Homo sapiens: one gene and its partners. The protein of the gene in region 3 interacts with the protein of the main gene of each other region in a biochemical or structural test. Each region holds a gene or a part of one and is shown on either strand. Other genes may lie near its edges.

Region 1 (3,660 bases), on a different chromosome or scaffold from region 3:
GGTAAAGGCAATAAAACTGTGTAACTATATAAACACTGAAGAAATAGGTTCATAAAACAAAATGTAACCATGGGGAAGTATGTATGTTAAAGAACTATATGAAGCTAGAAAAATAAATAGGCCAGGCACAGTAGCTCACACCTATAATCCAGCACTTTGGGAGGCTGAGGTAGGTGAATCGCCTGAGCTCAGGAGTTCGAGACTACCCCGGCATGGTGGCATGTGCCTGTAGTGTAGTCCCAGCTACTTGGGAGGCTGAGGTGAGAGGATCGCTTGAGCTTGGGAGGTGAAGGTTGCAGTGAGCTGAGATGGCACCACTGCACTCCACCCTGTGTGACAGAGCGAGAACCCGTCTCCAAAAAAAAAAAAAAAGAAAGAAAAAAAAAAGAAAAGAAAAGAAAAGAAGAAAAGAAACAGGTAACAGTCACCCCTGGAAAGGATAATGAGATGACCGAAGAATAAGAGATAGAAGGAAGAAGTCTTTCACTACATTCCCTTTTGTACTATTCCCACTAATGCCTCCCTAGGTTAAGTAAGCAGTACTTACCAGAATTTTATCAGCTTTGGCTTCACTAATTCCCTTAATATTTATTAGCTCCTTCTTTGGCGCATAGGCAACAGCCTCCACAGTATGGAATCCAGCTTCTTCCAATTTCTTCACATCGTTGGCATTTATGCCACACTGCTGCAAATGAAGAAAACCATGGATAAATTTAAGCTTTAGTTCTCTAATCTAACACAGATGTTATGTGTCCTACATACTTCACAGAGGTGCTTGAAGACTTGTAATACAACTGTCCCTTGAAATCCTTGGGGGGGCGGGGGGAGATGGGAAGTTGGTTCCAGGACCCCCAGCAGATAACAAAATCCAACAATGCTCAAGTCCCTTATATAAAATGGCGTATTACCTGCATATAACCTATGTACATCCTCCTGTATACTTTTTTTTGATATGTAGTTGATTGAATTTTTGATACGTAGTTTGTTGAATTTGCTGATACAGAATCCGGAGATACAGAGAGCCTACTGTTATTATATGCAAAAGCTGAAAAATGAGCCCTATATATGAGGTACTTAATAACAAATTAACAACCTTTTCATTATCAAAATCAATAATTTTAAACTAGCACTAAGCCATGTACATTAAAAAGAACTCCTATTAGCAATTGGAATTAAAAAGTAACTCCCAACCTTTTTTTGTGACCCTAAATGATCTCTGAGACCTTGGGCCCTACAAGACCACTTTAAGACAGTGTTGCTCAACACTTTCCACATCAAGCACACATAAAAAACTGTATTTTTACACTATGGTAGGGTAAATAGATAAGGCTGCTCAGAATATAAAGAGCACTATCTTGGCCTGTCAATACTTTTTGTTGAACAATGACCAGAAAGCTCTGCTCTAACAACTGACATTAACAGTGAGGAAAACTACTTTTTGTCAGGGACTTTTATACCTCTTCTCAAAACAAACCACCCAAAGACACCTCTTTCTTCCTATATTCAAGTCAGCTTTGGTTTCATTAGCCACCAAAACCATGACTTCTGGGAAAACATGAGTTAGTAGGTGAATGTGGGTGCATTCAGGGGTTGGGAGAATTTAGAAGAGGGGAGAGATTAGTTTGCCAACATAAGCCATGTCTGCTATTAATATTTAAGCAATATGCATGTTTGAGTATAAGGATGCTCATGGCACCAGAAGTTATGACTCTGAACTTTCAAATGTTTATCACAAATCCATTTAAGTAACTTCTAGAGTCTTTTTTTTTTATTAGCCTTTTGCACTCCTAACTTCTAGAGTCTTGAAGATTAGTCAGAGATGGGAAATATGAAAAAAAGAGACAGAAGAATCAAGTCTTTCTCTGCTTTCCTCCTACTTAGCCCAAATCAGCTGCACTCACAGGGCAGTCTCTATACAATGGGCAGAAATAGTGTAAGGCCTCAGCTCTGGTGCTTAATGTTCTTGTGCAGAATCCTGAATTGGAGCTTGTCTCTTATACCATAACACCACCACACCCTTCTCTCTGCCAATGACAGCTGACAGCACAAATCTAGGTTAATGGAGAGAAGGTGCTTCCCTGTCTTCCTTGCATAACTGGTCCAGGCCGCTATAATTCCCAGAACAGCACTTTCATACTTAGTGCAAATAGCACAGGATGCTTTGGCCAGGCATGGTGGCTCATGCCTGTAATCCTAGCAGTTTGGGACGCCAAGGCAGGTGGACTGCTTGAGGCCAGGAGTTCAAGATCAACATGGTCAACACAGTTAAGACCCATTTCTTAAAAAACAAACAAAAAAACAGCACAGGCTGGGCGCAGTGGCCCATGCCTGTAATCCCAGCACTTTGGGAGGCCAAAGAGGGTGGATCACCTGAGGTCAGGAGTTCGAGACTAGCCTGACCAACATGGAGAAACCCTGTCTCTACTAAAAATATAAAATTAGCTGGGTGTGGTGGCTCATGCCTGTAATTCCAGCTACTTGGGAGGCTGAGGCAGGAGAATCGCTTGAACCTGGGACGCAGAGGTTGCGGTGAGCCGAGATCACGCCATTGCACTCCAGCCTGGGCAACAAGAGCGAAACTCCATCAAAAACAAACAAACAAACAAACAAAAACAGCACAGAGATTCCACCATGGGATCCTAGGCCTTAGTTTCTGACAGTCCAACTCTCAGAAATAAAAATGATAAAGTAGGAAGAGAATTGTTGACAAAGGAAGAGGCCCTGCCAGACATATTTAGCAATGATCTGCAGCCTTTCCACAGGATTATTGACAACACTTCTGAAAAGTCTAATTTGGGTCTTGACCTTGGTAGTAAACCTATATTTTATGTAAAGGTTGTAATACCTTCCACTAGGTAGAAGAATCTAGTATATAATTCCAAAATTAGCAACTAACCACATACCTCTAACCGTGAAATGGGTTGTGGGCCAAAGCTTTCTTCTTCCACTGAAGTATCTGCATTTGCTTCAAGCTGCATCTGCATTGCCATTACTGAAAAATACAAATGCTTATCAGTATAAACACTAGAGAAATAAGGTGCATCTCTCTCCCCATCTTCTATCTAGCTAGTCGTATCAAAAAGACTTTAGGAAAAGCCAAGGCCATTCTCTTATTGTGCCTCTCTGTTCTCCTGCTTTATATTCCTTCAGTGTAGGGGCCAAGTTTTACTTATTTTTATATACCCCATTATACATTATAAATGTGTTTGCAGACAAATACTGCATGATCTCACTCATATGTAGAATCTAAAAAAGTTGATCTTGGCGGGGCGCGGTGGCTCATGCCTGTGATCCCAGCACTTTGGGAGGCCGAGGCGGGCAGATCACCAGGTCAGGAGATCAAGACCATCCCGGCCAACATGCGAAACCCCGTCCCTACTAAAAATACAAATATTAGCAGGGTGTGGTGGCACACGCCTGTAGTCCCAGCTACTCGGGAGGCTGAGGCAGGTAAATGGCTTCAACCCGGAAGACAGAGATCGCAGTGAGCCGAGATCGTGCCACTGTACTCCAGCCTCATGACAGAGTGAGACTGTGTCTCAAAAAAAAAAACAAAAAAAAAAAAGTTCATCTCATACAAGGAACAAATAGAACAGTGGTAACCAGAGACTGAGGAGAATGCAGCTGTTGCAGGGGGCGGCAGGAAGGAGAGAGGTTGGT
Region 2 (2,668 bases), on a different chromosome or scaffold from region 3:
AGTACTTATGTACTTAATATTACGTCATATTTACTTCATATCTTATTTTTTATAGACAGGGTCTTGCTAAGTGGCCTAGGTTGGAGTGCAGTGGCTATTCACAGGCGTAAACATTGTGCACCACAGCCTTGAACTCCTGGGCTCAAAGGATCCTCCGTCCTCAGCCTCCCCAGTCTCTGGGACTACAGGTGTGCACCACTGCTCCTGGCCATATCTTATTTTTTAAAGGAAAGCCATTACAGATATAATTGAAACCACGTCTGCATCCCTTGCCAATACTGTTCCCTCTCTTCCTCTTTTACTCTCCAGAAGTAGTATCTTAAATTTGATTTTATCATTTTTCGCATGTTTCCTACTTTTTTTTTGAGACGGAGTTTTGCCCTTGTTGCCCAGGCTGGAGTGCAGTGGCGTGATCTTGGCTCACCGCAACCTCCACCTCCTGGGTTCAAACGATTCTCCTGCCTCAGCCTCCCAAGTAGCTGAGAGTACAGGCATGCGCCACCACACCTGGCTAATTTTTGTATTTTTAGTAGAGATGGGGTTTCTCCATGTTGGTCAGGCTGGTCTCAAACTCCTGACCTCAGGTGATCTGCCCACCTCGGCCTCCCAATATTTCCTACTTTTTATAGTATATGTAAAAATATAAGGTATTGTTTCATGTTTTTCATGTTTTTATATTTTTATATATTTTTTTGAAAAATTACATTAACAGCATAAAATTCAAAAGTTATACAGAAGAAACAATAAGAAGTAAATCTTTCGTCCTGTCCTGTGCCCCATCTAGTACCTTAAGACAATCAGTGATAGTAGTTTCTTGGCTGTACCTTCACAAATATTCTAGGTATTTATATTATTTATTTTCCCGTACACAACAACAGCATATTATAGACAACATTCTCTCCTGGCTTTTTTCACTTACTCTTTATCCATATTGATATATAGAGGACTGTCTCATTCTGCTTAACAGCTGCATAGTATTGTGTTTTATGGATATATCATACTTTGTTTAATTTCTATTCTGGTAATAGTCATTTGGGTTGATTACCATCTTTACGCTATGATAACCAAGTATTTCAGTACTTATCTATGTATTCATTACATTGTGTCATAACGAGACCAGTTTATTTGTAGGATATATAATGAGGAGTGGAATTCCTGGGTTAAGGGCATGCATATTTGTAATTTTGACAAACACAAAATTACATAGAGAGGGCTGTACCAACTTATATGTCTACCAGCAATCTGTGCCTGTGTCACGTTTCCTCTTACTCTGGCCATTCCAGTGTTAGCAACTTTTAAAATTTGCGAATCTGATTTTTAAAAATGACATCGTTTTAATTTATGCTTTATCAGTGAGATCAAGCATCTTTTCACATTTGTGTGTCTGTGTGTGAGCTGTCTGGTCATATCCTTTACACACTAATGTATCAAATTACTGGCCTTAAAAAACTGTAGGAATTCTGGGACAAGAATATTAGCCCTTTTTTTGATATGAACTGCAAATATTTTCCCAGTTTTATATTTGTATTGACTATTTGTGTATGTGTGTAATTTGACACTCAGATTTTAAAAATGTTGCTAAATTTGTCAGTCTTTTAAAATAACTCCTGGATTCTCAGTTCTTAGAAAGTTCTTCCTCACTCATAAATCATTAAAAACACATTGCTGTGTTTTTTCCCTCATATTTATGGTTTTTTTTTCAGACAAGTTTTTATTCCATGAGCAACTTATTTTGGTGCAGGTAACGAAGTAGGAATCCAACATTGTTTCCAAATTACCACTCATTCGCTCTTAAGTAATCTATCTTTACTTGCTTGAAAACACAACTTTATCATATTCTAGAATTCTGATATCTTTAAATTGACAAAAACTGTATGTATTTTGTACAATGTGATGTTTTGATATATGTACACATTGCGAAATTGATTACCACAATCAAGCTAGTTACATCCATCACCTCACATATTCATTTCTCCTGGTGAGATCTACTCCTAGCAATTTTCAAGTATACATTAACTAGTCACCCTGCTGCACAACAGGTCTCCGGAACGTACTACTCCTGTTTAACTGAAACTTTGTACCCTTGACCAACATCTCCCCATTTATCCCCTCCCTCCAGTCCATGAAACCACCTTTCTACACTCTGCTTGTGAGTTCAATTTTGTGATTCCATATCCAAGTGAGATCATGGCTTATTTCACTAGCATAGTGTCCTCCAGGTCCATCCATGTTGTTGTAAATCAGTTATTTCCTTCTTTTAAGGTTAATAATATTCCATTGTGTAGATGTACCTTTTTTTTTTTTGAGATGAAGTCTCACTCTTCTCACTCTTGTCGCTCAGGCTGGACTGCAGTGGCGGAATCTCAGCTCACTGAAATCTCCACTTCCTGGGTTCAAGCCATTCTCACTTCAGCCCGAGTAGGTGGGATTACAGGCGCCCTCCAAGATGCCTGGCTAATTTTTGTATCTTTTGTAGAGACGGGGTTTCATCATGTTGGCCAGGCTGGTCAAGAACTTCTGACCTCAAATGATCCACCTGCCTTGGCCTCCCAAAGTGCTGGGATTACAGGCGTGGGCCACCGCGCTCAGCCCTATCTATCTTCTGTTGATGGACACTTAGGTTGATGTCTTGGCGATTGTGAACAATGCTTCAGTGAACGTGGAAGTA
Region 3 (3,660 bases):
AGTGGGGTGTTAAAGTCTCCCATTATTATTGTGTGGGAGTCTAAGTCTCTTTGTAGGTCTCTAAGTACTTGCTTTATGAATCTGGGTGCTCCTGTATTGGGTGCATATATATTTAGGATAGTTAGCTCTTCTTGTTGAATTGATCCCTTTACCATTATGTAATGGCCTTCTTTGTCTCTTTTGATCTTTGTTGTGAATCCAGGAGCTGGTTTTTTGAAAAGATAAACAAAATTGATAGACCACTAGCAAGACTAATAAAGAAGAAAAGAGAGAAGAATCAAATAGATGCAATAAAAAATGATAAAGGGGATATCACCACTGATCCCACAGAAATACAAACTACCATCAGAGAATACTATAAACACCTCTATGCAAATAAACTAGAAAATCTAGAAGAAATGGATAAATTCCTGGAGACATACACCCTCCCAAGACTAAACCAGGAAGAAGTTGAATCTCTGAATAGACCAATAACAGGCTCTGAAATTGAGGCAATAATTAATAGCTTACCAACCAAAAAATGTCCAGGACCAGATGGATTCACAGCCAAATTCTACCAGAGATACAAGGAGGAGCTGGTACCATTCCTTCTGAAACTATTCCAATCAACAGAAAAAGAGGGAATCCTCCCTAACTCATTTTATGAGGATATATTTTGAACAAGCTCCCATATATGCTATTGGTCAATGAACTACACTTTAACAAGGATGAATAGAATCTCCTTGCACTTTATGACTTCTTTTATAGATCAGTTACAATATTCACACTAATATAAAGTTTTCTAGTCTATTTATTCCATCCATAATAGCAAGATATTAATAATATATCCTTAAGGGTGGAGGGGCTTTTATATTGTTAAAATAAATATTTACTATAATGATCTTGTTCTGATGACAAGTACAAGACAATTTCATAATTCCTAGGTGATTTATAAAGAAATGAGCTATTCTAAAGAATGCTGGTCAGTCAAGGTGGCGCATGCCTGTATTCCCAGCACTTTGGGAGGCAGAGGCAGGTGGATCACTTGAGGTTAGGAGTTCAAGACCAGCCTGGCCAACATGGTGAAACCCCATCTCTACTGAAAAAAAAATACAAAAATTAGCCAGGTATAGTGGCAGGCACCTGTAATCCCAGCTTCTCAGGAGGCTGAGCCATAAGAATCACTTGAACCCGGGAGGCGGAGGTTGCAGTGAGCCGAGATTGCGCCACTGCACTCCAGCCTGGGCTACAAAGTGAGACTCTGTCTAAAACAAACAAAAACAAAGAAACAAAAAAATTCATTTAGTTGGACTATTTATTAGACAACTTCATATAATACATGTAAAAAATCTGATTCATTTTAATATTTAACAAATACTTTTTGAGCCCTTATGGTATTCAAAACTCTATGCTAAACACTGGGCATATAAGACGGACATGATTCCTGTCTTCACAGACCTTACAGCCTAATGGCGATTGCCAATAACTTTTTATTTATTTATTTATTTAGACAGAGTCTTGCTCTGTTGCGCAGGCTGGAGTACAGCAGCACTATCTAGGCTCACTGCTACCTCTGCCTCCAGGGTTCAAGTGATTCTCATGCCTCAGCCTCCTGAGTAGCTGGGATTACAGGTGTGCCACTATGCTGGCTAAATTTTGTATTTTTGGTAAAGACAGGGTTTCACCATGGCGACCAGGCTGGTCTCAAACTCCTGGCCTCAAGTGATCCACCCACGTTGGCCTGCCCAGGGTGCTGGGATTACAGGCATGAGCCACCGCACTTAGCCATTGACAATAACTTTTGTCAGTTTACTGGCCGTGACTGAAGACAAGACAAAGAGCGAGGGGAAATAAACAATAAAAACAATAAACACATAATCATATCAAGAAAATAATTTTAGGTACAGAAACAGCTAAAAAAAACAAAAACAGGCCGGGCACGGTGGCTTACACCCGTAATCCCAGCACTTTAGGAGGCCGAGGCGGGTGGATCATGAGGTCAGGAGATCGAGACCGTCCTGGCTAACACAGTGAGACCCCGTCCCTACTAAAAATACAAAAAAAAAATTAGCTGGGCATGGTGGTGGGTGCCTGTAGTCCCAGCTACTTGGGAGGCTGAGGCAGGAGAATGGCGTGAACCCTGGAGGCAGAGCTTGCAGTGAGCCAAGATTGCACCACTGCACTCCAGCCTGGTCAACAGAGTGAGACTCCATCTCAAAACAAAAAACAAACAAACAAAAAAAACGGAATATACAGAGAAGGACCAGGGTGGTTGCTTTAGTTAGGTTGATTAAGAAAGACTTCCCTATGAATTTGATAGTAGAGTTGAGAACTGAATGATTAAAAAAGAAGGCAGCAATGCAAAGATGACGATGGGATGGGAATCATGACAACAATAATGAGGACAGCTAACATAAAATGATACTTAGTATGTACCCACAATTGTTCTAAGCATTTTAAAAGTATTAACTTGTTTAATTCTAATAACCATGTTATGAGATAGGCACTATTATTGGCCACATCATTTTACAACAGAAGTAACTTAAGAACAAGGAAATTAGGTAACTTGTCCAAGATTTCCAAGTAAGTAGCATAGCAGCAATTTAAGCCCAGGAAGTCTGGCTCCAGAACAAAAAAGAAGATCAAGGTTAGTGGAGCTTTGCAAGTGGGGGTAAGAATAGAGAGAGATGAATGAAGAAGTTGATAGAGGCCAGGACATAGAAGTCCTTATAGGCCAAAGAGTCTGGATTCTATTGTAAATGTAAGGAGAGCCACTGGAAGGTTTTCAGCAGAAGAGTTACAAGATCTGATTTCTGGATTAAAAGGATATCACAGTATGACTACTATTAATATGTTGAGAATAAACTATAGGAAGGTAAGAAGAGGGCAGAAAGAAAAGCTAGGAGGCTATTATAGTAGTCTATGCTAAAGATGATAGAGGTTTGGGTTAGGGTAGTAGCCTTGGAAATGGTGACAAGTGATCCAGAACTGGTATATACTCTGAAGGCTAGATCAAGAGGATTTTCTGATGGATCAAATCTGAGGTGTGAAAGGAGAGGAAACAAGAATGACTTTTAAGATTTAGTCATCATTCTACCAGATTTCTGTCATACCCATTTAAACTAATTTGTAGGGAACTACTCATATCAACTGGCTAGGGGGAGGGGGGGTGTCTCCCATCACATGTACATTTTTTTTTTTTGAGAACTTATTTCTAAAAGGAGGTAAGGGGCACACATAAACCTCCCATTTGTTATAGAAATCAATGGATGTAATACTGCACTGAACAGGCAGCAAGCCTATGGAAGCATTGGAGCTATTCAGATAGTTCAGTACGTAGAATATCCATCTTTTAACCTGAGGATTCTTTCATTTAAGTCTGTGAAAAGACTTTTCAATTGTTCCTTTCAACTATAATACTAACTCCTGGAGATCAGATATTCTATCATTTAAGTATCTGTATCCCTAATATATAGCAGGAAGTCAAACAATGTTTGACAATGATAAAGTGTGAAACATGACAAGGTAAAACTGAATATAAAACACTTTGTAATAACTACCAGGCTTGGTCATTGACTTTCTATGCCATGATAACATAGGATATCATAGAAAGTCAAAGACAGAGTAATTTTAACCTATAACCTAATGGATGTGAAGTGGTATCTAACTGCGGTTTTGATT

Evidence for each region.
Region 1: the proteins of MSH4 (region 3) and RAD51 form a complex in vitro, tested with the Homo sapiens proteins (one study listed by BioGRID).
Region 2: the proteins of MSH4 (region 3) and EIF3F form a complex in vitro, tested with the Homo sapiens proteins (one study listed by BioGRID).

What each region holds. Positions count from the first base shown.
Region 1 is NC_000015.10:40,698,089-40,701,748, reverse strand, and holds part of RAD51 (DNA repair protein RAD51 homolog 1), read right to left. Parts: intron 2,993-3,660; coding exon of another isoform or gene 2,991-2,992; coding exon 2,904-2,990; intron 686-2,903; coding exon 548-685; intron 1-547.
Region 2 is NC_000011.10:7,999,845-8,002,512, reverse strand, and holds the end of EIF3F (eukaryotic translation initiation factor 3 subunit F), read right to left. Parts: 3' UTR 661-2,668; downstream 1-660. UniProt on the Homo sapiens protein: Component of the eukaryotic translation initiation factor 3 (eIF-3) complex, which is required for several steps in the initiation of protein synthesis.
Region 3 is NC_000001.11:75,817,316-75,820,975, reverse strand, and holds part of MSH4 (mutS protein homolog 4), read right to left. Parts: intron 1-3,660. UniProt on the Homo sapiens protein: Involved in meiotic recombination. Required for reciprocal recombination and proper segregation of homologous chromosomes at meiosis.